7 linked regions of the Homo sapiens genome follow. The protein of the gene in region 4 purifies or fractionates together with the protein of the main gene of each other region. This does not show direct contact. Each region holds a gene or a part of one and is shown on either strand. Other genes may lie near its edges.

Evidence for each region.
Region 1: the proteins of AIM2 (region 4) and RREB1 purify together in Homo sapiens (affinity purification with mass spectrometry; one large-scale study listed by BioGRID and IntAct). This does not show direct contact.
Region 2: the proteins of AIM2 (region 4) and MOV10 purify together in Homo sapiens (affinity purification with mass spectrometry; one large-scale study listed by BioGRID and IntAct). This does not show direct contact.
Region 3: the proteins of AIM2 (region 4) and ZBTB39 purify together in Homo sapiens (affinity purification with mass spectrometry; one large-scale study listed by BioGRID and IntAct). This does not show direct contact.
Region 5: the proteins of AIM2 (region 4) and BEND3 purify together in Homo sapiens (affinity purification with mass spectrometry; one large-scale study listed by BioGRID and IntAct). This does not show direct contact.
Region 6: the proteins of AIM2 (region 4) and LEMD2 purify together in Homo sapiens (affinity purification with mass spectrometry; one large-scale study listed by BioGRID and IntAct). This does not show direct contact.
Region 7: the proteins of AIM2 (region 4) and SAFB2 purify together in Homo sapiens (affinity purification with mass spectrometry; one large-scale study listed by BioGRID and IntAct). This does not show direct contact.

Annotation. Positions count from the first base shown.
Region 1 is NC_000006.12:7,113,952-7,118,422, forward strand, and holds part of RREB1 (ras-responsive element-binding protein 1), read left to right. Parts: intron 1-4,471.
Region 2 is NC_000001.11:112,684,659-112,688,158, forward strand, and holds part of MOV10 (helicase MOV-10), read left to right. Parts: intron 1-2,307; exon of another isoform or gene 2,308-2,448; intron 2,449-3,500.
Region 3 is NC_000012.12:57,003,148-57,008,369, forward strand, and holds the start of ZBTB39 (zinc finger and BTB domain-containing protein 39), read right to left. Parts: upstream 3,400-5,222; 5' UTR 3,258-3,399; intron 1,815-3,257; 5' UTR 1,771-1,814; coding exon 1-1,770. UniProt on the Homo sapiens protein: May be involved in transcriptional regulation.
Region 4 is NC_000001.11:159,073,563-159,078,707, reverse strand, and holds the start of AIM2 (interferon-inducible protein AIM2), read left to right. Parts: upstream 1-1,941; 5' UTR 1,942-2,075; intron 2,076-2,081; exon of another isoform or gene 2,082-4,521; intron 4,522-5,145. UniProt on the Homo sapiens protein: Sensor component of the AIM2 inflammasome, which mediates inflammasome activation in response to the presence of double-stranded DNA (dsDNA) in the cytosol, leading to subsequent pyroptosis.
Region 5 is NC_000006.12:107,073,443-107,077,913, reverse strand, and holds part of BEND3 (BEN domain-containing protein 3), read left to right. Parts: intron 1-4,471. UniProt on the Homo sapiens protein: Transcriptional repressor which associates with the NoRC (nucleolar remodeling complex) complex and plays a key role in repressing rDNA transcription.
Region 6 is NC_000006.12:33,782,631-33,786,130, reverse strand, and holds part of LEMD2 (LEM domain-containing protein 2), read left to right. Parts: intron 1-1,611; coding exon of another isoform or gene 1,612-1,638; exon of another isoform or gene 1,639-1,670; intron 1,671-1,703; coding exon 1,704-1,779; intron 1,780-3,500. UniProt on the Homo sapiens protein: Nuclear lamina-associated inner nuclear membrane protein that is involved in nuclear structure organization, maintenance of nuclear envelope (NE) integrity and NE reformation after mitosis.
Region 7 is NC_000019.10:5,612,395-5,616,865, reverse strand, and holds part of SAFB2 (scaffold attachment factor B2), read left to right. Parts: intron 1-379; coding exon 380-444; intron 445-530; coding exon 531-734; intron 735-3,338; coding exon 3,339-3,401; intron 3,402-4,298; coding exon 4,299-4,326; intron 4,327-4,471. UniProt on the Homo sapiens protein: Binds to scaffold/matrix attachment region (S/MAR) DNA. Can function as an estrogen receptor corepressor and can also inhibit cell proliferation.

The sequences.
Region 1 (4,471 bases), on a different chromosome or scaffold from region 4:
TGAGCTCAGGAAGCTTTGTGGGTATCCATTCTGGATTTCCTTTCCAGAATTTTGCACACCTCCATTACCTTAGTCAAATTTTGCCTAGGAGTTTATGTTCAGATTGGGGAAATGCAGCACTTTGTTTTTGTTTTTAGTGCTGGGAGACTAACAGGACTAGCAAATTCTTCTTAATGTGGTTCACTTAGGTGAGGCAGAGTCTTGCTGTCGCCCAGGATGGAGTGCAGTGGCACAATCTTGCCTGTCTGCAACCTCCACCTCCAGGGTTCAAGCGATTCTCCTGCCTCAGTCTCCTGAGCAGGTGGGACTACAGGCACACACCACCACGCCCAGCTAATTTTTGTATTTTTAGTAGTAACAGGGTTTCACCATGTTGATCAGGGTGAGGGATGAGTTTTAAGGAAAAAGCTGATGACAAGCTTGGGGCTTACTCTTTGAAGAAGTGGTTCTCAACCTGGTGGGTTTGCCCCCAGGGGACTTTTGGCACTGTCTGGAGACATTTTTAAGTGTTTCTGGTGGGGGGGGGGGCGGCAGCGGGGAGCTGCTACTGGCCTTTAGTGCATAGACCCCAAAGATGCTGTTCCACATCTTGGAGTGCACAGAACGACCCCCATACGTCAGCAGAGCTGAGGTTGAGAAAGCCTGCTTGAAAGGTACAGTAGTCGTGGCCTGGGTCTCATCTACAAGTCCACTGGGTGCGCTGCCTGTATTGCATGCGATATATTTAGAAATCTGAAATTCCATAAAGCAAGTAAGCTCTTATTTGCCTCTGAGGTACCATGGTTGGCAAGTTCGAAGTTTCACAGAAAATTTGGGGTTGAGGAAAATGTTAAGTGGCATTAAATATATTTGAAAACCCCGTAGTAAATGAAAATTCTAGAAGTCATCTACTTCTAAAACAAACTAGATTCATTGGCTTTGTGAAGCTGTTGTGGTCGATGGCTCAGCTTTCCCAGTCACCTCTTCAGTTATTTGGGAAACTTGCTCTGGTGCTGTCATCTGCAGCCTCCTTCATGTTCTAAGTTATGTGGAGTATACCTTTTTTTTTTTTTAAGTGTTTGAACTAGCCCTTACTTGCTTAACAGTTAATGTTTTTGCATTCGTAGTCTCCCTTGTTTTATTTTCTCAAGTTTTTGCAAAATTCTTACATAACCGTCTGCCGTTTTTATAGGGCAGTGTTTCTGAGCCGGGTGCTCTGTCCATACATCTCCTCTTGAGAGGGTGGATGGCTGCCAGCTGCTGTGGTTGGGAGGGATAGGGAGGGAGTAAGGGGATGCAGGGTAGGAGGCGGTGATTATTTTTATGTTAAGGGACCCCAGGCCTCAGACCAGAAATGTCTAATATAGTGTCAGGAGTGATCTTTTAGCCAGCAAGTGTTAACTGATCTGACCCTTGGCCTTCCCCCCCACCCCCCAGCCTATCACACAGACAGGAGGTAAGGAAACCATAGAGGGGAGAAGAAAACAGGGAGACAGAGATCGAATTCCAGAAAAGGAAGGGCTGCCAGTGGTAGGCAGAGTCACCCCTAGAGTGGCCTGGGCTCCCACTTTATAGACATGTGCAATACTTGAAGATAGCTCTTTTTACATCTAAACCAGCGGTTAGTCAGTGTCCCATTGGTGTCAGTCGCACTGATGGTGCTCAGGGCCATTGCTCTGCAGCCACCTTTGCAGTCCCATACGTGGTAACGAGTCCTGTTCCTGCAGAACGCACTCTGCGTTCTGGTGCTTTTCTGTCTTCTCGTCTAACCTATAAACTGCCAACTCCCAACTCTATATCTCCATTTACAACTTCTCCCAAGCTTGAACCTTTTGTCACCCTGATCACCCTGCAAGTACCTTACCCTGCAGGTACTTGTAAAAATGAAAGTCCTCTCCCTTCCTTCTGGAAGGTGATCACCATCCACCCAGCCTTCTAGGCCAGGAGTCTTACTGCCGTCCTGACGTATGTCTGTCCTGCCCCAATGTTCGATCAGTCACCAGGCCCTCTGCAAAACCACACTCCAGTCTGGCCCTGGCATTGGCTGTTCTATCGTTTCTGACCTAAGGCCCTCATCAAGTCACAAACGCCTCCCAAGTTAATTTCCTGCCACCAGTTTCTCCTTACTGCAGTTCATCCTCCACTCTGCTGCCAGAATCATCAGAACTAAAGCCGTGCGTGGTGTTTGCCTGCTTAAAAACATCTCTTGGCTCTCTGTTGTCTACAGGAAGAAATCCAAACTCCTTAACTTGGCATACAAGGAACTTCGTCTGCTTCCAAGCTGAATTTCTAGTCTCAGCTCTTGTCACTCTCTTCTACCCCACTGCCACACTGAATTGATTCTTACTGCCTCCTGTTGCCTGGATTGTTCATTCTGTTGCATCCCCATCCCCTTCCTTCAGCAATAAAAATTTTGTACTCTTTTTTTCAAGACCCAGCTTAAATACTACCTCTTCTATGGAGAATTAGCTCTTCTGTTGTGAGTAACTTTTACCCCCATCTGTCAAGTCTTGTCTGTTGTAATTTATCTCTTAACATGTTTCTCTCACTTCAAGAATATTTTCCCATCTCCTGCACCTAGAACGATTGCATAGTTGGTGCTCACTCACCACTGTGTGTTGATTTCTGATACAAAAATGAGAGTTTCTGAAGATTTTGGAGAATAGCCACATGTAATTTGGAAGCTAAGGCCTAAATAGTGCTACAAATTCAATGAAGGAAATAGACATGAACTAACGATTTCAGCATACCCATCATGCAGAAGGTGGTGCTAGGTGGGAAAGAATTAAGTTCTTTGGTGGGAAAGAATTTTGAATTACAGAAATTCTAAAATAAAAGTTGGCTCAGCTTAATGTAAAAGTGAAAAAAACTCCTTGTTAATGCCTGGTTGCACTAAAAGCTGTCACACTGGGGCCTTTACTAATTATAACCATTTTTCATGGCTCTTGATTTGAAGTTTACATTAAATAGGAGAGATGGGCACACAGATCAAAGACCAAAATCATTTCAGAGCTCCAATGTGTGGGCCCATTTTCTCTGCTTAGTTAGAGTTTTGTTTCATTAGTGGTATGAGTTAATAGGAGTGTTGGTCTGTGTATAATTTAGCTTCTCTTTTTTCCATTACTCGTAGGATTCAAAACAGAATACCAAGCCAGAAATCTACAGGGTATAAATCTTGCTTTATGTGTTTGTATGTGTCTGTGTATGTGCAGTATACACGTGGTAATAGTTGATTTTAGATCATATTTATAAAAATAATCATTTTCACTGTTTTAAGGGAGCTCCCTTTATTCTGACACTTCAGTGTAAAAAACAAAACATTTCTCTGAATATACAAAATCAAAATCTTAATTTTCTCATAAAAGAGGTAGATATGTCTTCAGAAATAGGGGAGATAACCAGGAAGATGGGGTGGGTGTTCTGAAACACAAAGGTGAACCATGTGAATAGGTTTCCTGTTTTTTTTTTTTTTTTTTTTTTTTTTTTTTTTTTTTTGAGACGAAGTGTTTTACTCTTGTCACCGAGGCTGGAGTGCAATGGCGCAGTCTTGGCTCACTGCAACCTCCGCCTCCCAGGTTCAAGCGATTCTCTTAGCCTCCCGAGTAGCTGGGATTACAGGCGCCTACCACCACACCCAGCTAATTTTTGTATTTTTTTTAGTAGAGATGGGGTTTCACCATGTTGGCCAGGCTGGTCTTGAACTCCTGACCTCAGGTGATCTGCCCACCTTGGACTCCCAGAGTGCTGGGATTACAGGCATGAGCCACCGCGCCCCACCAGATTTCCTTTTTAAACAATGAATTTTTATTTTTTATTTTTTTGGAGACAGGGTCTCTCTATGTTGCTCATGCTGGTCTCAAATTCCTAAACTCCTGGGATGGAGCAGTCCTCCTACCTCAGCCTCCCAAAGTGTTGAGATTACAGGTATGAGGTATGAGCCACTGAGCCTGACATGAATTTAAAAAAGCAAAAAGAAGAAAATGACATAGTGTGTGGAAGTTCTTGGTATTTTTTATACAAGATGAAATCCTGGTTGATTAAAAATATATTACTATAAATATTTTTTAACAAGTGCTTATCTGCTAACTAGAGTTTAGGCTCAGATTTGGCAGATACATTCAGATATAATATTCTAACGTAGTTTTATTTATCAGGAGGCTCATATATTTTCCTCTTCAATACAGAAAATAGTTTTTTGTTTTCTTTTTGAGACAGAGTCTTGCACTATCTCCCAGGCTGGAGTGCAGGGGTGGAATCTCAGCTCACTGCAACCTCCACATCTTGGATTCAAGCGATTCTCCCACCTCAGCCTCCTGAGTAGCTGGGATTACAGGCGCATGCCACCACACCTGGCTAATTTTTGTATTTTTAGTAGAAACAGAGTTTCACTATGTTGGCCAGGCTGGTCTCAAACTCCCAACCTCATGTGATCTGCCCGCCTTGGCCTCCCAAAGTGCTGGGATTACAGGTGTGAGCCACCGCTCCCGCCCAG
Region 2 (3,500 bases), about 46 Mb from region 4:
ACCAGCAATTTATGAGTTCACTTTTCCACATACCCATTATAGTAATATATGCTAGAACTATGTTCATTTTTGTCAGTCTAATGGGAATAAAATAATATCTCATTTATACTTTAATTTGCATTTCTCTACATTTGGAGCAGTTTTTCATACTCTTTTGGCCATCTGGATCTGTTCTTTTAATTGAATATTCGATTTTTCTGTTGAATTGTTCATCTTGTCAATTTGTAAGAAAATTTATATATTATAAAAATTAGCCCTTTGCCTGTCATCTGCATTATGAGTATTTATCTGGTATTTATCTGTTGAATGTGTTTATATTACCTTTTGCTAGAGAAAATATTTTTTAGTAGTCAGAAATGTTTGTTTTCTTTTTTAGAGACAGGGTTACCCAAGCTCTGTTAACCAAGCTGGAGTGCAGTGGCGTAATCACAGCTCACTGCAGCCTTGACCTCCTGGGCTCAAGTGATCCTTCTGCCTCAGCCTCCTGAGTAGCTGGGACTACAGGTGTGCACCACCATGCCTGGCTTTTTTTTTTTTTTTTTTTCACTATTGCCCAGGCTGGTCTCAAACTCCTGGGCTCAAGCAGTCCTACCACCTCAGCTTCCCAAAGTGTTGGGATTACAGGCATGAGCCACCACACTTGACCTAGTTTTATTTTATAGCTGCTGGTTTCCAGTCTTGGTTAGAAAGTTTTTCTTAGAAATATAGGGGATTACGGCCGGGCACGGTGGCTCACACCTGTAATCCCAGCACTTTGGGAGGCCGAGGCGGGCAGATCAGGAGGTCAAGAGATTGAGACCATCCTGGCTAACATGGTGAAATTCTGTCTCTACTAAAAATAGAAAAATTAGCTGGGTGTGGTGGCGTGCACCTGTAGTCCCAGCTACTTAGGAGGCTGAGGCAGGAGACTCACTTGAACCCGGGAGGCAGAGGTTGCAGTGAGCCAAGATCGTGCCACTGCCCTCCAGCCTGGTGATAGAGCAAGATTCCGTCTCAATAAAATAAAATAAAATAAAATAAAATAAAATATAAAATAAAATAAATATAGAGGATTACATGTATAATACAAGGATTGGGGCTTTTTTCCGACAAGAATATAATAAGTTTGTGATTTTTTAAAAATAATTTTTGTATGACTGTTACCTAGACCAATGTTAGGTGAATTTGGGTAGTGATGAGAGACATAGAGAATAATTTGAGAAATATTTAGGGATAGCATCTGCAGTAGAATTTGGAAATTTTACAGAGATGAGTTCTGTCTGCCCTTGTGCCATGCAGGTTTTCAAAAATAGGAGGTTTCATGTTAAAATTTTGATTTTGTCTTTTCTTGAAAGTCAGATCTGGCCATCCGGGGCCTGCATTCCCTACTGGCCCCGTTCGAAGATAAGCAGTTACCTGCTTCAGACAGGGCATGCACTTCCCAGTTTGTTCAGTCCCCACAAAGCCCTCTTTCTGCCCAGCATTGATCTGGGAGCCTGGAGCCACTTTTCTTGGAGGTTGCACTTTGTTTTCTTAGCGTTGTGAGGGATATGCATGCAGTATTCTTACACTAGTGACTCTCAAAAATGGACTGAACAGGTGTCTGAAAGGGCTGCAAGGATCAAGATACCTGTGAAGCATAGCTGCTGTAGGCATTAGCTTGTGCCTCGATCCATGGGACTTTGATGGACTCTAAGAAGCCCTTGTGAAAGTTACTGATGATCTCCTGATTTCAGTCCCTGTATTACTGGACCCCTCAGCAGCTTTTGATCCTGATACCTGATTTTGAGACTTTGCTGATTCTCCTTTCTCTCTTGAGGGTTTCTTGTTTTCCCTTCCTCCCCGGGTTGTGCTAGTAGCTGCTCTCAACTACTCACACTCCCTGGGGAGATTCCTACACTTCCTTGATTATAACCACTACCTGGGGACTCCCTAATACTAGGCTGTAACCTTGACTTTGGCCTGAGTTCTCAGCTTCTGACTCGTGGAGCTGGTTGCCTCTGGACCACAGGAATCTCAAACGCATCATATCCAAATCCAAATGTCATGGTCAGTCCCTCCAACCCCTCCTCCTCTTGTCTTACATCCTATCTCAGAGATAGTCCTAGAAGCCAGGCCATTGATTTGGGGATCCTAGACTCATCCCTCTTCCCAGCCTTCATTCCCCCTTCTGTCAGTCACCAAATTTCTGCTAATTTTACATTCTAAGTATTAGCGAATCTTGCCGCTCTTCTTCTGTATCTCTACCCACTGCCTTGCTCAGGCCTTTGTTATCTTTTAACTGGACAATTGCAAGGGCCTTCTTCTAACTGGTCTCCCTGCCTACAGTCTTGCCTCCAGCAAATCCATCCTCCAATCCTGATGCCAGAGTGATCTGAAATGCAAATATGATCTTGCCACTCCCCTGCTTAAAACCCACCAACCGCAGTGGTTCTGTAACCACAGTGTAGCCTCTGACGTGGGCTGAAAGTAAGTTGTTACTACTCCTACTACTACTGCTACTATTAGTACTACTATTTCTACTAATATAAATACTAACAATAGTAGCTAACATTTACTGAGCATTTTCTATTATGCTTTTGAATGATTTATTACCTTTTTAAAACAAATCATAGCCAATTCAATGTTTTCCAAATTGTACCAGTCTCATTTGCTTGGGGTGAAGGAGAGGGGCAGAGTTACAGGCAGCAGGCACCTGAAAAATACTCATAACCATAAATGATCTTATCACATACCCTAGTGAGTGACCATGATGATTTAGCCTGAAGAGTTAAATAGGAATTACCATAGTCCTCATAAACAAAGATTTGCTTTTAAGGGAGGGTGTCAGTCATCTAGATCTTGAATATGTCCCTGAAGTATGTGGCACGTGGGAATGTCCTCAGGCTCCTGGGTATCAGTAGAGCGGGGAAAACGACTGCAGACATGCAGAGTCAAGTCCAGGCTTGGCCTGTTGTGCAAAACTGTCCATGATCTGGTCCCTGCCCACCTCTGCTCCTCCTGCCACTCCCTTCCTTGTGCATTTCACTCTAGCACAATGAAACTGTATGTGATACTAATCATGGCTCACCCTTACTGAGGTCTCCTATGTGCCAAGCACTGTGCTAAGTGGTTCTCTGCCGTGTCAAAATCTCATGTAAACCTCACAGCAACCCTACGAGGTAAGTCTCGCTTTCCTCCAATTTTATAGAGGAGGAAAGCGAGGCTCTGAGAGGTGAGGTCAACTGAGCTGACCTGGCTAGAGTTGTCAAGTGGGCCGCCCCCCTCTGCCCCTCCCTGCACATGTTCTTGCGTACCTCTCACATCTGCTTACACTTCGCGCTCCCTCTTGTGCCCAGGTAATGCCCACTCATCCTCAGGACTCAGTTCTTATGCTGCCTCCTGGGAAGGCCTTCATGGACACCTCCTCTGCCCCCAGACTGGGCTCAGTGTCCCTCTGTGGCACTGAGCCCCTCTGTGGCCGATGAGCTGCCCTCCAAGCACCACGCTGGAATGTATATGTTCAGTCTGTGTGCTCCTCG
Region 3 (5,222 bases), on a different chromosome or scaffold from region 4:
CAGAAACTCCTCTGCTGGCAGCTTCCGCTTCTGGAGAGCTGGGTGCTGCAGCCCAAAACCAGGCCGTGCATCAAGGCCACTGTTGCATTTGTGCTGGCTGACGTGGTAGCGATAGGCAGCCTCTGACTTGAAGCTCTGGCTGCACAAGCGGCAGTGGAAGAGGGCGTCTTCCAGACTTTGGTGCACAGCCATGTGCTTCTCTAGAAGATGCCAGTCCACAAAGCTGTTCGCACAGACAGAACAGGAGAAGACTGAGATGCCGAGATGGGACAGCGTGTGCCACATGAGGCTGCAGAGGTTAAGGTGACGCTGGTCGCAGACACTGCAGGCCTGGCCCTTCAAGTTTAGATGGTCAAGGATGTGGCCCCGGACCACATGGAAATCTTTGGCCAATACTTTCCCACAGGCAGCGCATTTCAGCTCTGGGGAGGCTGCCCCTGAAAAGAGACCCAGCTTCCCTGGCAGGGGATCGTTGGGGTGGACAATGATGTTGTTCTCAAATATTCCATCCCGTCGGTGAAGGGTCAGCTGCCACTGGGTAAAGAACTTAGTTTCACACATGTCGCAGGAGAAAAGGAAAATACCAATGTGGGACAGGACATGAGTTACCCGGGAGTTTCGGTCCTGGAAGTGGGTCTCGCAGACCTTGCAGTTGCCCGTCAGCAGGTCCACATGGTCCCGAGCATGCTGCCGGATCAGTTGAATGTTGGGCTCTAGAACTTTCTTGCACACCTGGCAGGGCATGGCCTTATTCTCCCGATTGTCATTCTCTCCAAAAGCCAACTCATCCTCACTGTCATCACTCAGCTCAATCACCTCCTCAGTTGTGCCTATATCCTCAGCAGGGTCTTCAAACTGCAAGTCATCATCCCCCAGGTCCTCGAGCTGGAGCTCATCCATCTGCCCAAAGCCAGGATCTTTGGAGTGCTCACTATTGCTCAGACAGGAGTTGGTCCCAGTGGTAATGTCTACTGCATTGTCAGGGGTGAGGAAGCTGTTTTTACTGAAGTCTCCATTGCTTTGAACTTTGTATGGCTGGCAGGAGCTCGTGCTGGTCTGGATGCCCGTGCTGACAGTGCCTAGGAGTGGCTGGGTCATCATGCTAGGAATGGACGTGAAGGGAGCAGGGGTGTCATGGTCTTCTGTCTTTGGCGGTGGTGGGGGCGGTTGCGGCAGATGCAGGCTATGGTTAGCGTCACTGGCAACATTCTTCTCTTCCTCTTTATAGCTCCCTCCAGCATCACTGGGCAACACATAGTTTCTATCAGCACCAAGGTAGTCCCCACCACCTCGGAGTTCTCCAAGGGGATGGGCAGGTTCTGCCGAAGGACAACTCAGGGTACCAGAGTGGCTCTCACTGGTGCTGGTCAGGGGCTTGGCCCTGGCAGTGCTCTCCAGATCAGGAAAGGTAGAGTGACAGGCCTGGAGGAGGTCCTCCATACCCAGACGCTCAGCTACCTCGTAGATGACCCCAACATTGATCAGGTCTGTGAAGAGTTCTGAAGTGTAGACAAAGCTCAGAACCTTCTCAAAGTTGGCAGGGGTGATGAAGTCCACCACATAGGTCCTGGCAGCATCAAGCCCAGTATTCAGGAAGAGGTTCTGGAAGTAGCCAGCTGCACAGGCCAGCACAGCCTTGTGGGCCGGGAAGGAGCGGCTCCCCACCACAATGGTGACGTCGCACATGGTCTCTGAGAGCCGGCACTTGTTGAGTTCCTTCAGCAGGTTGTTGGGGTGGTTGGTGCTTTGCAGTTTGATCCTCATGCCCATCTTAGCAGCTCCTATGAAATTACCTCCTTATCAGCACAGTTAATCTGTGGATAGCAAGAGAAAAAGATGGATGGCCAAACACATCCGTGCAAAAGAGGGGCTATGCAGGAGAAAATACCATCACTCTGAATGCTTCCAAGCCCCAGGTAGGGATCAGGAGTAAACTGGCATGGAGAGTTCCTCCATTATGACAAGGCAATGACATCTCCCCCTGTATATACTCAAAGAGTTATGACAAAAACCAAAACGACTGATGACAATCTGATAGCTTGGTTTTAAGCTGGTGCCTAGAGACGAACCAGAGGCATTCCCTTGGACACAATCTTATACTTCATTACCAGAGCCACTGGATCAAATTTTTCTCCTATTAATTTCCTCCCAAATACAAGCTTTCCTAATTCATTGAGCATATTCTTTTCCCTCATGATGCCAAATACCATGCACATGCTTGAACACAACTATCAAAGCTCCACTAGCTACTGAGGAACATATAAGGTGGTTCCGTTTTTTAGCTTTGTCATTGCTGTGTCTTCAACCTCTCAATAATCTCCAAATAAATCTCACGTTCTTGAATCCCCATCTCTCTCTGCCTATACTACATACCCGCTCTCTGGCCTTTCGATAACCCAGAGCCCCTCCAGATATTGCTTTATCACAGTCCCTGTATTCTGTGAAGTTAAAACACTCAGAATGCACAGTAAGAAAAGTAGAACACAACTGTGGTAGTATTTAATATTACTTTAATATGTTGTATTCTTTTTCGCCACCCTTTTCGGGGTTTATATTTTGTTGTCCCTGCACTAACAGATTTACTTGATGCCGCAAGAAAGACTTCTAATTATACAGGTAAGACTCCTAGAGGCTTGTTCACTACCACTTTCTGCCCTTTCTGACTCCTGCACGACTAAGGAAGAAGAGCTACTTGCATCCCTGTTCAGTCTCACAACTCTGCCCAACACAGCCCCTTTCTCCATCTCTCCAGATTCTAACAACTCCCAACTTTTTCTGGGGCCCAGGAAGCGTCTAAGTATTGTGGGGTACCGGCCAAGCATCTCCCGGGCCCTGGTGGCCACCCCTGAACGATGGGCGGGTCGGAGCACTGGGCAGCCAGAGGAGAGGGTGGGAGAGGGGGAAGCTGGGAACTTCCAAGGACACCCCAACAATCCCCGGGCGCCGCGGTCTCCCCTCCGGAGTCGCATCTGGGAGGGAAGGGCGCTGCATCGGCTGGGGCGCTCCCTCTGGAGGCAACGAGCGCCTCAGTCCCTCCACAAACAGCGCGGGGCTCACCCGGGTGAGCCTGTTGGGGGCATGGGGCTGAATAAGGGGCCAAGCGAGGGGCGGCGGGGCCGGCCGGGGTCGGCGCGCGGGCGGGGAGGATGGGTCCGGCCGAAGGGAGCGGGCAAGAGGGACCCCAGCAAGAGCGAGATAAATGCCGGGCCGAAGGTCGGGCTTCGGCCAGGGGCAGCCCTCGGCCTGGCCGCGCTTACCCGGCTCTGCGGCGCCCCGAGCACCATCGCCGCCGCCGCTTCACACAAAGGCCCCGGCCCGCCGTGCCCGGCCCGACGAGGAGGCGGCGCCGCCGGCCGCGGCCAGACTCTCCATCCGCCGCGCGGCTCGCCGCGACGGCCCGGGCCGCCCCCGCCGCCCGGCCCGCAGCGCCCCCCGCCGTCCCGGAGGAGGCAGCGCCCCCCGCCGCCCGGCCGCAGCGCCCCCCGCCGCCCGGGAGGAGGCAGCGCCCCCCCACGGCGGGGCCGGGTCCAGGACCTGCGCGAGGGGTGCAGGGGCTTCCAAGTCCCCAGGCTGGCTTTTTCTAAGCGCCCATCCACTGTGCGCGGGACTTGGTGCCTGAAGAGTGAAAAACCCTATCCAAACTCTCTTCACCTCCCCTGTTCTACGCTCACAGTTCCAAAAGCTTCTCCTCAGAACATCTACTATGGGCATTTTACAAAATGTTGTAAGATTGTTTGATTACTATATATCTCCTCCACTAGGCTGTGGGCTTCCTGAAGGCAGGGATCTGTGGCTTTGCACACGGCCGCAGGTCCACACTGACCCTTACCACACTTCCTGGCACAATAAGTGCTTAATACATTAAGCCTGCTTGAATGAATGAAGGAGCACTTGAGGGCTAGACCGCTACTACTGGACCCTTCTGATAATCCACTGCTGTCCCTCCTTCCATCTAGGTGGCCAAATGAAGAAAGTCACCGGATCTCACTGTACTTTGGCACCCCAGGCCTGCTTCCTGAAGCCTGCCCTCCCCAACTCTGTGTAGAACTCGATCACTCTTCCTCCCCACCCTTCTCCCAAATCATCTTTTCAAATGCTTCTGCCCAAGAATTGTCATCAAACGAAAACCACCTACACTGCCTGCCCCACCCACCACCACCAAAGACATTAGAAGTCTTCGTCATGTCGCCCTCCCTCCCTCAGTACAGAGGAAGCTCTTAGGCTCCAAGACCCTTCAGTTTCATCCTCTCTCCCATCCCATCCCAGTCACTGCCTGAAAATAGCTTGCAGCCAAGGACAAACTCCCAGGACAGGCGCATGGTAGGATTCAGTAATTCCTTGATGGATAAGTGGAAAGGAAGGGACACACTGAATGTTGCCAACAGATCTAAGCCAGTTTGGCCATTCAGCAATTGTCCATTCTCTTGATGAATTTGGGAGATTGTGTGTCCTCCTTTCCACAACCTCATTAACTGGTGGCAGACTATACTGAAAGCAAGCACTATACCAAATGCTGCCAAACATGTAACATTTGTTAGCCAGGAGATACAAAAACAGCCATAGAACTGTTCTTATAGTTTGGGGATGAGGCATCTCACTTTACCATCTAGTGAAAGGGTCACTTAGAGGTTGACACAATGTTTCAGTGGCAGGCCCAGCTCTCACAGTTGTGCAAGGTGACTGAGTCTCCCTAAAGTGGAATATCACACAGCCAGCAGGTCCAGACCTCCAGCATGACTCTGGAGACAGAGGGCTGCTGGGCTTGCAAGGGCCTGGGCCTATACAGTCTTTCTAACCAACTGCCCCAGCCATCTCTGGAGGGTTGACCCCAATAAACTTCACATGAAAACAAATCATCCAAAAGACGCAGGTGAAAGTATATACCACTTATACTGAAGTCTTTTTAAAGTAAATCACCATATAGTCACAATAACAAACATATACAAAGTTAAATGGAGAAGAAAGGGCCAGGAATTTAGTCAAGGTCTTGTGGACCAGATCTCTTTAGGCATCAACTGTTTTACAACAGGAAAGGGAGGGTCAGGATCCCTTCACACATTCTTCAAGTACAAACACAGGAATCTAACTTAACATTTGTCTTCATTTTTTTCTGGAGTCCCCAGTACTGCAATTTTTGTCAGTCCCACTAGAGAGCAATCTTTCTGCACTTAATGTTCCTACTTGCAAAGCAATTGTCTCATCTCAGCCTATAAGCCTAACTC
Region 4 (5,145 bases):
GTCTTGTGTCACCAAGTTGGGTATCTCTCTGATTAAATTTCTTGGTAAAACAAAGCTGGACGATGAGTACTTGTCTCTCTGCCCCAGGTGCAGCAGTGTACCTGCTCCTCATTGAGACCACTTCCCAGCTTAATCACTTAACTCACCTTTTACAGGACCTGAAGCCTCAAATCAGTACGCCTCTCTGGGGTTGGTGCTTGTTGGGTTCTTCCTCAACAGGGAGCTTTCTCTCGTTTACTCAGTAGGTTACCAAATTCATACACTTCACATCTTTTTAATTCTTACATATTGTTCTCTTTGGTGTTCTTTCGCCTTGTGTGATCCACTCATTCATGCATTCACTCATTCAACGAATATTTTCTGAACACCTTCTCTGTGCCTGGCACTGTGTCAGGTGAAGTGGATGCAGTGAGCCAGTGGGCAGAAATCTCTTCCCTCATGTGCCTTACATTTTAGGAGCATGAGGCAGAGAATAAACAAACAAATGACATATACCGTATGTCAGATGATGGTCAGTAACACGTGTGGGAAAAGATAATGTGGGGAAGAGGTAGAGAACATGCTGGTCAGAGAAGCCCCACAGATAAGGTGCTATTTGAGCTGAAAGCTGGCAAAAGTGTAGAAACAAGCCTTGCAGTAGAAAGTGAAGGAGGTCCTGCAGCTCTGGGCTGATTACCTGGGCATGGTTAGGTGCTCTTCCTCTGCTCCTTGAGCATCTTGAGCATGCTTTAATTATAACACTTATCATCATGTCCTATTGTGATTATTAAATCACATGTCTGTTTTCATGACTTGGCAGAGCCGCTCAACATCTGGAACTTTGTCTTACTAACTTTTATATTCTCAGAATCTAATACATCATATTAGATGTTCAGTGCATAATTGTTAATTCAATGAATAAGAAAGGAAAACCTCAAGTAAATTGCTGACTAGAATCAAGCCCTCAAGCTCTGAATTTAGGGTTAGGAGCCTGGGTTAGGAAGAAAGACTGTATATATGCTTTTGAGGCAAGCAGTCAGTGAGGGAATGAGGCATGATTACTTGCAGGTGGCTACAAGCAATAAAAATGCGGTCAAAAAGGTTAGCAGAGGGATTGCCCCACTAGTAGATAGGAACTGTTACAACAGCCTGTGACAATGAAGACAGATTGCAAACTTCCTACTTAGGCACAGATGAGAATGTAACACAGAAGAAACTGGCCGCAACTGGTTAAAGCCAAGATGGTCGAAAACTTGGCTGACTGCTGACCCTTAGCTTCATTATGCCCTTAATATCATAAAACTTCCATGGGGAAATTCCCACTCCCATCATGCACCTGACGCCATGACAGTTCCGGATTAACCATCTTTAGTCAAGAAAAGGGTGGCACCCCGATTCCGGGAATTGCCCGCCCATTTCCCAGAAAACCCCTCCCCTTGATTACAGAGTACTCCATACCTTCATTGTGCTTATTCATATAGTACGTGAACCACATTGCCTGTGACTCAAATCTTTGAGTGCCTGCACTCCTCCCTTGAGGGTGTCGTTGGTTTTGCTCCACAATAAAATGTCTATACTTTCGCTTGGGTCTCATTTTCAGATTCTCTTATGCTTTGAAGACAAGAACCTGCACTGCCCTACTGGCAACACTTTTAGATACCCTCTGAGATCAGTGTGCTTGTTTATACCAGAAAAATGTCATCACCAGGCCCCTTAGTCACAAAGTGTATCAAGAAGTCATCTGCGGTCATTTTTTACAGTTTCTAGGCCACTTTCTGTTTCCAATCAGTGTAGTTCCTATGTGGCATGACTCAGATACAAGTTTCTATAGACATTTTCTTCTGTGGCTGCTAGTGAGAACCCAAACCAGCTCAGCCAATTAGAGCTCCAGTTGTCACTCCTACCCACACTGGGCCTGGGGGTGAAGGGAAGTGTTTATTAGGGGTACATGTGAAGCCGTCCAGAAGTGTCAGAGTCTTTGTAGCTTTGAAAGTCACCTAGGTTATTTGGGCATGCTCTCCTGAGTCCTCTGCTAGTTAAGCTCTCTGAAAAGAAGGTGGCAGACCCGGTTTGCTGATCGCCCCAGGGATCAGGAGGTAAGCACCATAGAGGAGCTGGGTTAGAGACGAGAGACTTAACCGTTTCTCTGCTGAAAAAGACAACTGAGGAAAGGCCAGCCATGCTGTGCACACCTCTGAGAACCTGAACCTGCAAACATGGACATCAGCTCTGAAAGGATGGGTTCATTTCTCTTTTATTCACTTTAGCCATGTCCTCTGGTGTCTCTGAGCTGGTGTTCCTTAAGCTTCGGCTTCCTTTGGGGTTTGTCTATCAGCCTATTTGTAAGGCTGACTTTTATGCCAATAGCAAATACAAGCATTTTTTAAGTTAACAGATATTATGAAGTAAAATGCAAGTTTTTCATTTATAAGGCAACATAACTTCAGAGAAAAAACTGAGTCAATCACATAAAATGTGATTAAAATGTGATTGTTATTATATAAGAGGGTTATAGGAAGATTAGCTTCTTATGGACAAGTAGAAAAGTAGGAATCATCCAAGCTGATTGTCACAGTAGATATTCAACAAAGGTAGTGTCCTTCCTTGCTTTCATCAGTAGGATGGGGGCATTTGGATGGCTTTATCATTGCAAATATTTTTAATGTATTCCTTATTTTGAAAATGGTCCTGATAATAGTTTTAATTTTCACTCATGAACTCTACATGTATAAGTAGAGTTTCTCCAGCGCTTACCAACATATAGGAAAAAACATTATAAGGCCATTAACAGTGATAGTTTAGAATTTATTAACATTGACTCTACTGATGGGGGTATTCAAGCTTCCCTAAAATTCACAATCAGTTATTTTCAGCTCATAAACATCTTTTCCTGTTCTTTGGCTTATTTCTTCCACTTTATATGTTGCTGCTCTGGAAGTCATTAATTGCTAATAATGTCAAACATCTTTTTTATGTTTATTGGATATTTGAGCAAATTGCTCATTCACATCTTTTGCACACTTTTCAAATAGACTGTTGTTTTCTTATTGATACATGGTTCTCCATGTATTCCAAAAGCAAAACCTCTATTAGCTCTCTCTCTCTCTCTCTCTCTCTATATATATATATATAGCAGGTATAGCCATATATATATGTGTGTGTGTGTGTGTGTGTGTGTGTGTGTGTGTGTGTGTATTGCAGGTATCTGCCCAGTTTTTGCCTTGTATAATCACTTTGTTTAGTGTGTGTGTGTGCACGGATGTGTGTGTTTCCTACAAAGAAATTGAGAATATGCATGCAATCACATTTGACAAATTTTTTTTTTCTGGCTTGTCCTTTTTGTGCCTTATTTAAGGAACCTCCTTCTACTTCAATGTATTGAGAAATTCTGTGTTTTATTCAACATCATTACTATTCTATTTAGATAATTAATCCAACCAGATATATATTTTGTGTATGATATAAGAGAAAGGCTGAATATATCATTCCCTGTGTATTGTCATTTGTCTGAACACTTTTTATAGTTGGCCATTCTTTCCTTGTGATTTTTAATGCCACTTTGATTATATACCAAGCTTTAATTTACATGTGGTCCTGTTTCCACACTCTATTTATTAGTTCATTTTTTTCTACGCCACTGCCATACTGATTTAATAATTATACATTTGTAGTAAGTATTGATACCTAGTAGTAGGGATAGTACATCCTGATAAACATATTCAACTTGTTTTGCAGGTTTTTGTCTTTATTTTTTTCATTTAGGTTTTAGGATCATTCTGATAAATTCTATGAAAAACCCTTTGAGATTTTGGATAGGAGTTTATAGATTAATTTGACAACACTGCTGTCTTCATTTTATCAAATCTTCCCATTTAAAATATCAGACATACACCCACTTAAGTAGGTCCTTTAAATCTCCCAATAAAGTTTTATAAGTTTCCCTTTAAAACTCTTAAATATATTGTATTCGATGTTCTTATGTACTTTGTAGTTTTGTTGCTATTGGAAATTACTTTTTTTATGTAATTTTTTTCTCTCTTGGAGTGGTACTAAAATAAAGGAATGCATTTCTGTATATTAATCTTATAGTTATAAACTGTTGAATTATTATTTATAATGTTTTGTGTATTATTTTGGATACTATACATAAACAACTATATTACTACAACGTGATTTTGGCAACAAGTTACAAAAATAGGTTGATGGACAGAATAAAGAATCCAGAAATAGACTCACTCATATTTGGACAACTGATTTTTGCAAAGGTAAAAAAAAAAATCATTAAAAATGACAGTCTTTTTAACATATGATTCTGGGAAAATTCATATTCATATGAAAAATAAATGAACTTTGAATCATCACTTATATCATATACAAATTAACTCAAAGCAGTACATACAGCCAAATGTGAAATGATCAAACCGTAAAATTCTTACAGGAAGACATAAAATCTTCTAATCTTGAGATTGGAAAAGATTTCTTAAATAAGACACTGAAAGCATGATCCATGAAAGAACAGATTGATTAATTGCACTTCATCAGGTATATGTATATGCCAAAATTTATCAGATTGTATACTTCCAGTGTATGCACCGTGTTGTATGCCAGTTATGCCTCGATAAATCTATTTTAAAAATAACAGGAAAATGTATCCTGTTTCCTTTTTGTTGTTGTTGTTGTTGTTGTTTTGAGATGAAGTTTCGCTCCTGTTGCCCAGGCTGGAGTGCAATGGCGCGATCTTGGCTCACTGCAACCTCCACCTCCCAGGTTCAAATAATTCTCCTGCCTCAGCCTCCTGAGTAGTTGGGATTACAGGCGCCCACCACCATGCTCGGCTAATTTTTGTACTTTTAGTAGAGATGGGGTTTTGCCATATTGGCCAGTCTGGTCTCAAACTCCTGACCGCAGGTGATCCGCCCACCTTGGCCTTCCAAAGTGCTGGGATTATTACAGGCGTGAGCTACCGCGCCCAGCTAATGTATCTTGTTTTCTGAGAATTCCAGAGGTGTTGTATACTTTCTGAAGATGTCTTTCCCAGGAGTAGTGATCACCTTGCTTAAGAAGTTCTTACCTATGTCCTACTCAAATCTCTTTTACTACTGCAAATATTTTATTTTTCTTTAAAAAATATTAATAGCTCACCTTGCTTTATTTTGAATGTAGAAT
Region 5 (4,471 bases), on a different chromosome or scaffold from region 4:
CTGTGGTTTGTTTTTCATTTGGAAAATGGAAATGGCATCTCATGCAGTGCAAATGCACAGAACACCTCCTGAGTGTCAGTTACTGTGGTGTGAGCCGAGGATTCTTAAGAAGTCTCTCAACAACTATCGCAGATAGGTACATTCCCATTTTAATGAGGCTCAGATAAGTTAGCACTACCAAGCCTGCGTGATTCCGAACTGGGCACTCAAACATCATGCTGGTGGGATACTGGGATATTTGTAAGATGCATGAGAAGCCTTAGGTGCACTCATATCTTGCTAGGTCTTCTGTTCTTCCTCTTTTCCCTTCATTATAGTTGCTTTATCTCCCCAGAATCTTGTTTCTTCGGCCATCTTAGCACATCCTTCACCCTTACCATATAGTGTTGGCAGCAGAAGGATGACCCACAGAGTAAGAGCCGTGAGAGCAGAGACTGTGTCTGGCTTGATCCTGGGAGGTCACCGTATTGATGCTGAACTTAGTGAGGGGTACCACTGGGTTGCCTAAGGAGGGGTGAACCGGCTCAGGTCAGAAACAGAGCAGGTCAGAACTCCCCTGCTGATCAGTAGTGGGGTCACGCCTGTGAACATAGGCAACTTAGTGCAGCCCTGTCTCTGATTTAATTTAAAAAAAAATTGTTTTGGCCAGATGTGGTGGCTCACACTTGTAATTCCAACACTTTGGGAAGCCAAGGTGGGCCGATTACTGGAGCTCAAGAGTTCGAGGCCAGCCTGGACAACATGGTGAGCACATTTAAAATAGGATTTTGTGCAGAAAGAGATCATTAGAAATTCATATACTGTGCAACAAGAGTACATGTTCTAGAGGGAGACCTGCCCTAATTAATACCCAGGATAGAAAAATAAGTACAGGGTCTCTACTAAAAATACAAAAAAAATTAGCTGACCATGGTGGTGTGTGCCTGTGGTCCCAACTACTTGGGAGGCTGTGGTGGGAGGATAACTTGAGCCTGGGGAGGGTGGGGAGTGATGGCGAAGGTTGCAGTGAGCCAAGATCACATCACTGCACTCCAGCCTGGGCAACAGAGTGAGATCCTGTCTCAAAAAAAAATTTGATGATGATGATGAAAATAATAATGTTGAAAATGAAAGTGGTATAAGCATCATTCATGCGACTGTGATTCCAGGAGGGAGATGCCAGCCCAACTGACCACTGTTTCACATGGCCTCTCTGCTTCCCCAAGCCATGCTGCTTTCTGAGTGTTCCAGCGTGCTGACTCTCAGGGCACTTTTGAGCCACTCATTCATTGAACTAAATTCAGTGACCACTCTTGGATTTGGGGTTGCGATGAAGACGTCTAGCACTTGGAGCATCTCCAGGGTGTCCCACTCCCTGGGATGTCACTGGGCATGGACACCTGGAGTCTCCCTAAATAGTCTATTTACCCCTCACTTGTAACCCAACATCAGCTTCTTTTTGTTCAGTCAGATTCTCCAGCTGAGAGATTTGGGCATTCTCTCTGGGTTCTACGGGTGCTGGTGGCTGAATGAAACGCCCTGATCAAGATCCGGGCTAGACGCTGGCATTGCAGAGCCTGAGCTGTACAGCAGAGTTCCCATATGGTTGGAAGACGAGCCTCAGAGAATTGGGAATGTGTCAGCCAGTCCTACCCAGTGCCAAGTAGCACAGATTTAAAGATTTCTTGATACTCCTAGACAGCTGAGCCGAGATTTTATCATCAGCCACAAACGCAGCCAGCCCATTGCCGCCTTGGCAGCATTTGTGGAATTAATTGGAGCACTGAGCTGACAGGACACCAGTGTGGGAGTATCTAAGAAGTTTCTCTTCAGTGCTTGTGTTGTGTTCTGTGTTGAATTGTGTACCCAAGGTTTCTGGGAGTGAATATTGCCCTCTACTGGGACACTAACATTTTTAATTCAAGCAATCTAGCCAAAAATGTTTCTGTTGACGGCAGTGTTTCTAACATGCTTGGTGGAAATGGAAATATTTGTATTAATGAGGCTGAATATTGAGAGTTATGGGGGGTTTCCCAGTTTCAATGTACTCTTGCCTCCCACCTGCTGTAGGAATGTGAGGGAGTCAAACCTTGTGTGTGTTGTTGGTATTCAAATAATTCACCAGAAACTTTTCCCTGTACTCATTTCTCCCCTGGGCAAGTCTCCCTCTAGAACATGTACTCTTGTTGCATGCTATATACGTTTCTGATGATCTCTTTCTTAGGAAATTCTATTTTAAATGTGCTAATGGAACCTTATTTTAAAGCAAAGTCTCCTTTTCTAAAATCACTCCTAATATAGTTATGATTTGTAATTGTTAGTACTCCAAACCCAAATTTCTCTCTATTGGTAAACCTTATAGTAATCTTATAGTCCATGGGACCTCTAAAATTATTTTAGTGTAATAGAACTAAATGGTGAATAAATTGCCAAAAATTTTACTTTACATTCTACAGGAATTAGCAAGTAAGGCACTTTGTATTTGTTAGGGCAATGGTTTTCCACAGTGACCCACAGTTATAAATCACCTTATAGAGCAATACAACTTACCTGTATGAATTTGTAAATAAGTATTTAGACATACACATAGTAATGAAACAAAACTCTTAACTTGATTTACTTTGTGCAGTACACTTTGATATTTTCTATTCTTTTTGCTTTCTTATTTCCTCCTTCCCTCCCTCTTTATTTATTTATTTATTTATTTTTGAGACACAGTCTCACTCTGTCGCCTAAGCTATGGTACAGTGGTGCAGTCACAGCTCACTGCAACCTCCACCTCCAAGACTCAAGTGATCCTCCCACCTAAGCCTCCCTAGTGGCTAATCCTTCCCTCTTCTTTTTTTTTTTTGAGACGCTCTGTTGCCCAGGCTGGAGTGCAGTGGCACTCACTGCCACCTCCGCCTCCCGGGTTCAAGTGATTCTCCTGCCTTAGCCTCCTGAGTAGCTGGGACTACAGGCGTGTGCTACCACTCCCAGCTAATTTTTTGTATTTTTAGTAGAGATGGAGTTTCACTGCGTTAGCCAGGATGGTCTCAATCTCCTGACCTCGTGATCCACTCACCTCAGCCTCCCAAAGTGCTGGGATTATAGGCATGAGCCACCGTGCCCGGCTCCTCCCTCTTCACGATCCACCAAAATCAGTTATCATCTACTATCCCACAATTTGAAACACTGCATTAGGGGTAAAGGTTTTCAGCTATCTCCACCCCTTCCTTTCTGGTGTGTGTATATGTTTTCTTTTCTTTCTTTTTTAAAGAAATAATGCCAGATAACAGAACAGAAGAAACATAAAGGGCTTAAATTCCCAGCCTTTAGGACAAACAGACCTCTAAGAAGTGCCTTCCATGAGTGACTTACCCTGAGGCACTGTGGGAAAGTCCTTCTCAGTGTACTTGAGAGTGTCATTACAACTCCCCTAATAAAAGTCCCCTACAGAACTACCTCTGCCATGGCTTGGGAATAGCATTACGTAATAATAAATCATATTGTAATAATAAATTTTTATGTATTTATTTTTGAGACAGAGTCTCACTCTGTTGCCCAGGCCAGAGTGCAGTGGCACGATCTTGGCTCACTGCAACCTCCGCCTCCCAGGTTCAAGCAGTTCTCCTGCCTCAGCCTCCCGAGTAGCTGGGATTACAAGCACGCGCCACCACACCCAACTAATTTTGTATTTTTAGTAGAGATGGGGTTTCACCGTGTTGGCCAGGCTAGTTTCGAACTCCTGACCTCAAGTGATCCACCCGCCTCGGCCTCCCAAAGTGCTGGGATTACAGGCATGAGCCACCGCACCCGGCCATAAATATTTATTAAGCACTTAGTGTGATTCAGATAGACTCAGTGCTGTGTGTGCACTGTCTCCTTAAATCCTCACAACCACCCTGTGGGACAGGTAGCATGATTTACCCTGAGTAAAGGAAGGTGAGGCTTACAAGGTCACAAACAGAATGCTTGCTGATTGAGCTGAGTTCTTAGCCACACCTTCATGCCAGTGCTCTTATCAGAACAGCTCCTTTTCTTTTTTTTCTCCTTTTCTTTTTCTTTCTGAGACAGGGTCTTGCTCTGTTGCCCAGGCTGGAGTGCAGTGGTGTGATCTCAGCTTACGAAGCCTCAATCTCCCAGGCTGAAGCAATCCTCCTACCTCAGCCTCCCGAGTAGCTGAGACTACAGGCACACACCACCACTCCCAGCTTATTTTTGTAGAGGTGGGGTTTCACCATGTTGCCCAGGCTGGTCTTGAACTCCTGGGCTTGAGATCCCCTGCCTCAGCCTCCCAAAATACTGGGATTACAGGTGTGAGCCACTGCACCTGGCCTCACTTTTCTTAAGCATGTATTTGAGAATGGTGGAACACTTTGCCCTGCTTTATTCACGTGTGGTTGACAGAAATTCATTGACCTCTTCTGTACCCTGGGCACTTTGCTAGGCACTGGGGATAGACTCAGGAACAACGTGGTCCCATCGCACAACCATCATGCAGTTTGACAGG
Region 6 (3,500 bases), on a different chromosome or scaffold from region 4:
AGAAGATATGGGGCAGTAAATTTTCAGGTCTTAAATTGTACCAGGAGGAGTCTTGTGCTGCCAGAGGGCATGACTTAGTAGTCTAATTAAGTGTGCAATGCCTGGCCTCCCAAGTCCTTAGTTAACATCTCTAGTAGCCCAGGGGCTGGGAAAGAAAATGACGCATGGTCCTCTGGCCAGCCCTGCATTGACTGTCTTACTCATGTAAATGAGGGGGCATCCTGGTGCAGATAACGGCTTTTATTTCTCTTTGGCTTCGGGTGTGTCATAGTTGGGGGTGTTTTATTACATCCATTTATTGGATTCATCCACCAAATATCTTTGCTTCCCAATTGTTTTGTAAAAACAGATTCATAGTAAGTTTAATCTGCCTTCTATCATAAAAACTGTAGTTGATGATGAGAGGAAGTGGCCCAGAAACACAGGCAGCCAGAGGGGAAACTGGAATTTGAAGACTTAAAACAAAAACAGGAAAAAATAACTTTCTGTAAGACTTCTCAGTGCTGTTAGTTTTGTCTTTTAATTAGAAAAAAGTTCCATGGTTTCTATTTCTTGGTCCTTCACATCTCTAAATGAATCAGACCCACAAGTGAATGGCACATTTGTTCCCTGGCCTTCTCTGATCTGGACACACTCAGGCTCCACTTGAGTGAGCCCAGACAGGTACCCTCCAGGTCCTAGCTACAGATGCGCTCCGTGGGCAGACGGCATTCAGCACCTGCCAGCGAGGGCTTCAGACGCAGATATCCCTATTTGTAACCATTCAGACCTTCATCAGAGCATCAGAAAGCAGGGGCTGGGCCATCTCAATGCAGGCTTTGTGGAGCTAAGATTTCATGGGGCACCCTTGGCCTTTCTGGAGGGTGGACACAGGAACAAGCAGGTGGGGACGTGTTTCTTGGCTTTGGTGAGGCTCTTGCTGAAAGTCTTATTCTTTGCATGGCTCCAGGCTTACCGAGATCACAGACGGGCATTTGAATTTCAGATTCATGTTCTTTCCCTTTTCGGTCGTTGAAGACGGTGACACTTTGTGTTTTTCTTTCTGCCTTTGTGCTGCTGAAAACGTGGGGACAGGCTGGGAGTGGGTGTGTTGTCTTAATCAGGCCGTCTCGTTGTCTGGTACCGTCTGTCCTCCTGTTTCCTTTAGGTGGTAGCAGCCTCTGCTGAGTGGTTTGTGTGAGTTCGCACTGAATCCTACCACAATCCTTACTCAGATGAGGGCTCTGAGATTCCACCTAACGGGAGACGAGATGGCAGCTGCTGACATTCTGCCCTGTCTGCAAGCTCTCCTAGCTCTTCCAGCTCTCCCATCTCTGCAAACTCCGACAGCAGTTGCTCTTCCTCTGAGGAAGCTGAGCGACTGCATCATCCCCCGACCACGTCGCCTCTGCTCAGCCCTCTTAATGGCCGTCATTCCAAGGGAAAGGCAGGAGCCAGGAGCCTCTGGGATGCAGCCCCTTGGTTACAGTGTCTGCTTTCAGCTTTGCCTCTGCTTCTCCAGGGTCTTTCTCAGGCAGTTAACCCAATATTTATCAACTCTCTCCCTAGGCCCAGCACTTGGCAGAATTTTTTTCTATTTTGTAAAAGTATGAGATATTCCTTGCTGTTTAGTATTTGACAGTGTGGCTGGAGAAGTAAAGATGGACAGACGGACCCCTCCCACCCACCCCTCCTTGCTGACCACTTGTCCCGTGCCTTTCCAGTTCTGTCAGGCCAAGCAGAAGGCAGCCTTGCTGGAGCTGCTGCATGAACTCTACAATTTCCTGGCCATCCAAGCTGGTGAGTAAGTCACGTAAGTCCTGAGATTCCTCTTGTGAGAGCTATGGGCGGCTGACCCGGTTCATCAGGCTTAGTTACACTGCTGCTGGCCAGCGAGACACTCCCTGGTTGTCTCTCAGAAGGCATATTCAGAAGCCGAGTCTCACCTTCTCGCCTCCTCACTCAGGCACATCTTTTATAAGCCTTGTGTTTGAACAAAACATATTTGATTCTTGCTCCTCTTTAAGGGAGGTCCTGGCATGTGAACAGGCCTTCCTGCAGCTGTTCTTCCTTCTTGGGGATGCCCACTACCTAATGCTTTGGGGGTCTCTGTTGGCATGGGAAGGGGCCAAGCCCCAGGTGTTGTCAGGATCTGTGTCCTTCACCCTAGAGGGACCCTCTGAACCAGGTGGTTGGCTGGGCCCGGGAGAGGCCTCTTGCCTGTGCAAGTAGCAGATAGTCTGTGTAGTGGGCCCTGGTGTCACATCTGGTCCTGATCACCATGTGGCTGTGGGACCTCGGACAAAGTCCCTGATCCTCTCAGGGTCTTCATCTCCCTGTCTGACCAAGGGCTCTTGGGTCTGTCTGTTCTCTACAAATGAGAGTCAAGTGCTGTCCTCTAAAGGAGGGCATTCTCAGCACCTCTGTGAAATGCCCCTGAAAATGCATCCAGAAGATGCATCCCCTACTGTTTTATTTGGTGAAGTTATTCCTTGAGGCCAGAGATACCACCTGCATTATTATGTCCTGCCCGACGCCTGGCATCCAGGAGGCTCTCAAAATCACTTGCAGTTGACATAGGTGAATATCAGCATGTGCGCCTTGTGTTAAATGCGCTGGACACAAGAACCAGACAGAGCAGTTCTATCTTAAGGGATATTCAAGAGGCGCCTCTTACCTGTGGGGTCAGAGGACAGGTCTTAGGATTGTGAGGTCAACCCTTGTCTAAGGTTTCACTGGGAAATTAGGGTCGGGTGGACTTCTCCTGGGCCCTCAGTCCTCAGGGTCAATCTCATGAGCATCAGCTCTTCTGCCTCCTCCCTCTTGAAAGTGAGAGATGAGATGGTAGGGGAGGCATCCATGAGCACTTGGAGGAGAAACAGGTACTGGGGCTCCTGCTCACAGCATCATAGGAATTCCTCTGTACGGCCCAGGTGCTTGGGATGTCAATTCTGACCTAAGAGAGTGTTCCAAACCTTTGTGTCTCAAATGTGGTCCAAGGACCCATAGCATCTGCATCACGTGGGAGCTCACTAGAAATTCAGAATCTCAGGTCTCATGCCAAACCCAGTGAATCAGAGTCTGTATCTTAAGATCCCCAGGGGATTTGAGTGCACCCTAAAGTTGAGAAGCACTGCTCGAAATTGGGTCCTAGTAGATATTTCTCCTCCATCCTACCCTCCATATGTGGTCTTGCCTTATGCCCTCAAGGGCCCTGGCACCTGTTGCCCTCCGACAAGCCTGGGGGGCCGCCTTGAAGGTACATATCTCATTGAGACAGGAGTGTGCCTCACAGAGGCTCCCTAGTAGTCCTCAACCCCTTCCATGCCTCTCCTGTTAGGGATCCGCTGTGGGCTGGGCACTGTGCAGGCCCTTGCAGTGAGATGACTCAGCTCCAGGTCCTGCCTGCAGGGCCCAACCCCGGCTTGGGGTCTACTGGAAGAGACAGGCCACCTACCTCCCTGACCACTGGGTGATATAAAATGTGATTAGACAAGAACCAAGAGGCCAGAAGTTCTGGG
Region 7 (4,471 bases), on a different chromosome or scaffold from region 4:
AGCCTGGCCAATATGGTGAAACCCCATCTCTACTAAAAATACAAAAATAAGCTGGGCATGGTGATGCACGCCTGTAGTCCCAGCTGCTGAGGAGGCTGAGGCAGGAGAATCGCTTGAACCCAGGAGGTGGAGATTGCAGTGAGCCGAGATTGTGCCGCTGCACTCCAGCCTGGGTGACACAGGGAGACTCCATCTCAAAAAAAAAAAAAAAAAAAAAAAAAAGAAAACAAATTGAGACAAAATTACGTGTGACAGGAGAGGGGAGACTTATAGTTTATCTTGTAATGTGTTCTGTTCTAAGATTGAAATCTATTCTGCATAAACTAATTATGAGGTAGAACTTGAGTGTTATCTGATTGAACAATTATTCTGTAATTAGGACTGAAGATGGAGGAGGAAGGCACAGAAGATAATGGCCTGGAAGACGATTCCAGAGACGGGCAGGTAAGTGATGTCAGGGTAGAGATGACAAGCAGCAGCTCCCTGTCCTGGTCCAGGTGGTCGTTAACGATTCTTCTTCCTCTTTACAGGAGGACATGGAAGCAAGTCTGGAGAACCTGCAGAATATGGGCATGATGGACATGAGTGTGCTAGACGAAACTGAAGTGGCGAATAGCAGTGCTCCAGATTTTGGGGAGGATGGCACGGACGGCCTTCTCGATTCCTTTTGTGATAGTAAAGAATACGTGGCTGCACAGCTGAGACAGCTCCCGGCTCAGCCCCCAGAGCATGCTGTAGGTAACTTGGAGACACGGCAGGATGTGCCCATAGCCCCGAGGCACCTGGTGCTCGCGTGCTGCTCGTGTGAGGGAGAACACAGCTAAACCGCCATGAACACACAGTTCTGCTTCTACACCCTGGTGTTAAACCATGTCCATTTAAACGCTGTGTAGCTCAGGGATTTACTCATAGATAGCTTTTCTGTAGCACTGGGGAGTGTTTTTATAATTCGAAGCATGTGGTGAGTCATAAAATAGAAAGCTCTGACATAAAAGATTTTTCTTTTCTGAGATGAGGTCTCAACTGTTACCCAGGCCGGTCTTGAACTCTTGGGCTCCAGCGATCCTCCTGACTACCTGGGCTTATTGGCACAGGCCACAGTGCCCATTTAGTTTTTTCCTTTTAAAATACAGTTTTAAGAAGCAAAGATGGTTTATTTATTTAGAGACAGGGTCTTGCTCTGTTGTGCAGGCTGGAGTGCAGTGGGGTCATCATAATTCACTGCAGCCTCAGCCTCCCAGGTTCAAGCAATCCCCCTGCATAACTGAGACTACACAGTGAACCACCACGCCCAGCTAATTAAAAAAAAATTTTTTTTTTTTTAGAGGCGGGATCTCACTAGGTTACCCAGGTTGATCTTGAACCCCTGAGCTCAAGCAATCCTCCCGCCTCAGCCTCCCAGAGTGCTGGGATTATAGGTGTGGTCCACCGTGCCCAGCTCAAAAATGGTTTCTAATCTCATCATGTAGATATTCCTCCTAATGTTGTGTTTTGTTTGTTTGTTTGTTTTTGAGACAGAGTCTCTCTCAGTCACCCAGGCTGGAGTGCAGTGGCAAGATTATGGCTCACTGCAACCTCCGCCTCCCTGATTCAAGCAATTCTCCTGCCTCAGCCTCCTGAGGAGCTGGGACCAGAGGCATGCGCCACCACGCCCAGCTGATTTTTTTATATTTTTAGTAGAGATGGGGTTTCACCATGTTGGCCATGATGGTCTCCATCTCCTGACGTCGTGATCTGCCCGCCTTGGCCTCCCAAAGTGCTGGGATTACAGGCTTGAGCCACTGCGCCCAGCCACTTGACTAATTTTTTATATTTTTGGTAGAGATAGGGTTTCATCATGTTGGCTGAGCTGGTCTCGAACTCCTGACCTCAAGTGATCTGCCTGCCTCGGCCTCCCAAAGTGCTGGGATTATAGTGGTGAGTCACCACGCCTAGCCTGTTAATGTTGTTTTAAGCAAGGTTAAGCAGTTACATTAAAAGATGTAAAGTACAGTGAAGACAAGTATCAACCCTGCTCCCCAAAAGGACTGACTGTGAGCATCCTTGTATGTAAAGGAGGAACTTTGCTCTGTTAGGGCTTTCCCAGCTTTTCACTTCTAGTGTTTTGGCGTAGAGCTCTCTGGTGAGGCTGTTCAAATATCACAAGCTGTCAGTGTCTTCGAGCTGATCTTCATTGTACTCTGACTGATGTCACGTGCCCAGTAGGTTGTTTTGTTTCCTTAAGGCATTGCAGCTTTCAGCTTGGGGGTGGAAATGCCTCCATAGGACTGAACCTTAAACCTTACGGTCAAAAGTCATTGCCTCCAAATTTACCATCCTTTGACCTAGGGCAGCACTGAGCAACTGGTTAGCCGCCTTTCTCAGTCTGGTACTGCTGTGTGCTTATTGTTTTCAGAGTGTGTACTTCTCAGTTAATGGAGGCATCCCAGGTCATGAGTTCAAATCGAGAAAAGGAAAAAAGAAAATATTTGGGAGTGCTGTTTTTGTAGTTCACTTAAAAAGAGCTTCAGATTTAGTAAAACTTGGTGTTAACAGTTTTTCTTTTGTTTGGCATGTAGTAAAGAGAGAAATTGACCAAGTTAGATGTTTGTTTTTAATAAAGTAGGCTAGGCGGGCCAGGCGCGGTGGCTCACACCTGTAATCCCAACACTCCGGGAGGCTGAGGTGGGCGGATCACCTGAGGTCAGGAGTTCAAGACCAGCCTGGACATGGTGAAACCCCGTCTCTACTAAAACATACAAAAAATTAGCCGGGCGTGGTGGTGCATGCCTGTAATCCTAGCTCCTCGGGAGGCTGAGGCAGGAGAATTGCTTGAACCCAGGAGGTGGAGGTTGCAATGAGCCGAGATGGCGCCATTGCACTCCAGCCTGGGCAAAAGGAGTGACACTCCGTCTCAAATGAATGAGTGAATGAATGAATGAATAAAGTAGGCTAGGAGAAAGTGCCCGGTTAGTGTTACCTTAAGAGTATTGCTACCAGGTGAAATTGGAGGGGTGCATTTTATCATTTTGAGTTCTGCTTTGGAAATCCTGTGATTGGAGGGGTATGTGGTAATCACCAGTACTTAGAAACTGCCTGGGAAATTCATTCGTTCATTCACCCAGTACAGACAGGGCATACCCACCTGCAGGCCACTGCCAGAGACGCTGGTGGAGCAGAGTCGTGGAGTGTGTGTTCTGGCGGAGAGGCAGGTGCTGAACTGAATGACCCAACAGTAGACTTGCAGATGGCAAAAGGTGCCGTGAGGGAAATAGACACACAAGTTGCCTAAGCGAGGTGTCAGCCTTGGTTTTCATAGCTCCAGCCTCCACGAAGTCATCTTCCATTTTGTTTTTCAGGTGGATGGGGAAGGATTTAAGAACACTTTGGAAACTTCATCGTTGAACTTCAAAGTAACTCCGGTAAGTTACCATCTGGTTCTGCATCGCTGGAAATGTTAATCGAGTGGTTGATTTTCCATAATGAAAGAGCAGTGTGTATGTGTATGGAAATGACTGGATACTGTGCTGGATGCTGGGGTTAAGAGGTTAGCAGAAGAGAAACAGTCTCAGGGCTGGCCATCTAGCAGGGGCAGTGGGATCAAACCAAATATGTAACCAGAAGGGAGAAAGAAGTGTGATGAGGGAGCAGTTCTGGTGGTTGGACTTCATAAGTGCCTGGAACTCTTCCCAGAGGTCTGACGGATAGGTTGAAGAGGGAAAGAAGAATTTGGAGCAGAAAGTTTGGGTGGTGTCTCTGATGCAAAAGAGAGAGGGGAGCACACAGGGTTGGATAGAAGCCAGAGGTGTTGCAGAGCAGCTGGGCCCGCCTCGCTGAGTCTGGGCCACCAGAAGGATTGGACCTATTGTCCTAAGTGAGACAGATGTCGGAAAAGGTTTTCAGCAGAGTAGAGAGATCATTTTGTTATGACAGGTTTCAGTTACAAATCAGTTTATGTTGGGAGAAGTATTTTTTTCTTAAATCCACTGTGACCTCTTCTCTGACAAAGGGGGTGTTTGCCAGCTGCAGCAGCCACTAGGTCAGCTTGGTCATGGGGTGGGTGGCATGGCAGGGCAGGGCCCAAACTCGGGAGAATGGGACAGACTGTTATCACTAGGGACCTGCTGTTACCAGGGAAACTGTTAAAATGAGCTGGTTTTCATCAGGTTATTGTAGGATGGAATACATTTTTTGGAGACAAGAAAGTTTTGTGGAAACAGGCATTTATTCACAGATGATTGAAAGCCATATTTACTGGTGAAATGTATGTGCCCCGTGTTTAAAGTGACTTGTGGATTTGCTTTTTCTTTTTTAAATAGGACATTGAAGAATCCCTTTTGGAGCCAGGTACTGATAAGAGAAACACGACAGTTATGGTTTGAAAGTTTTCACACTATTATTTTAAAGCTGTCTATATTTTAAGCTGTGTTATGATCTTGTAAATTGCTCTAATGGTGGACAATCCAGATCATACAAGGATCAGAGATTGGAA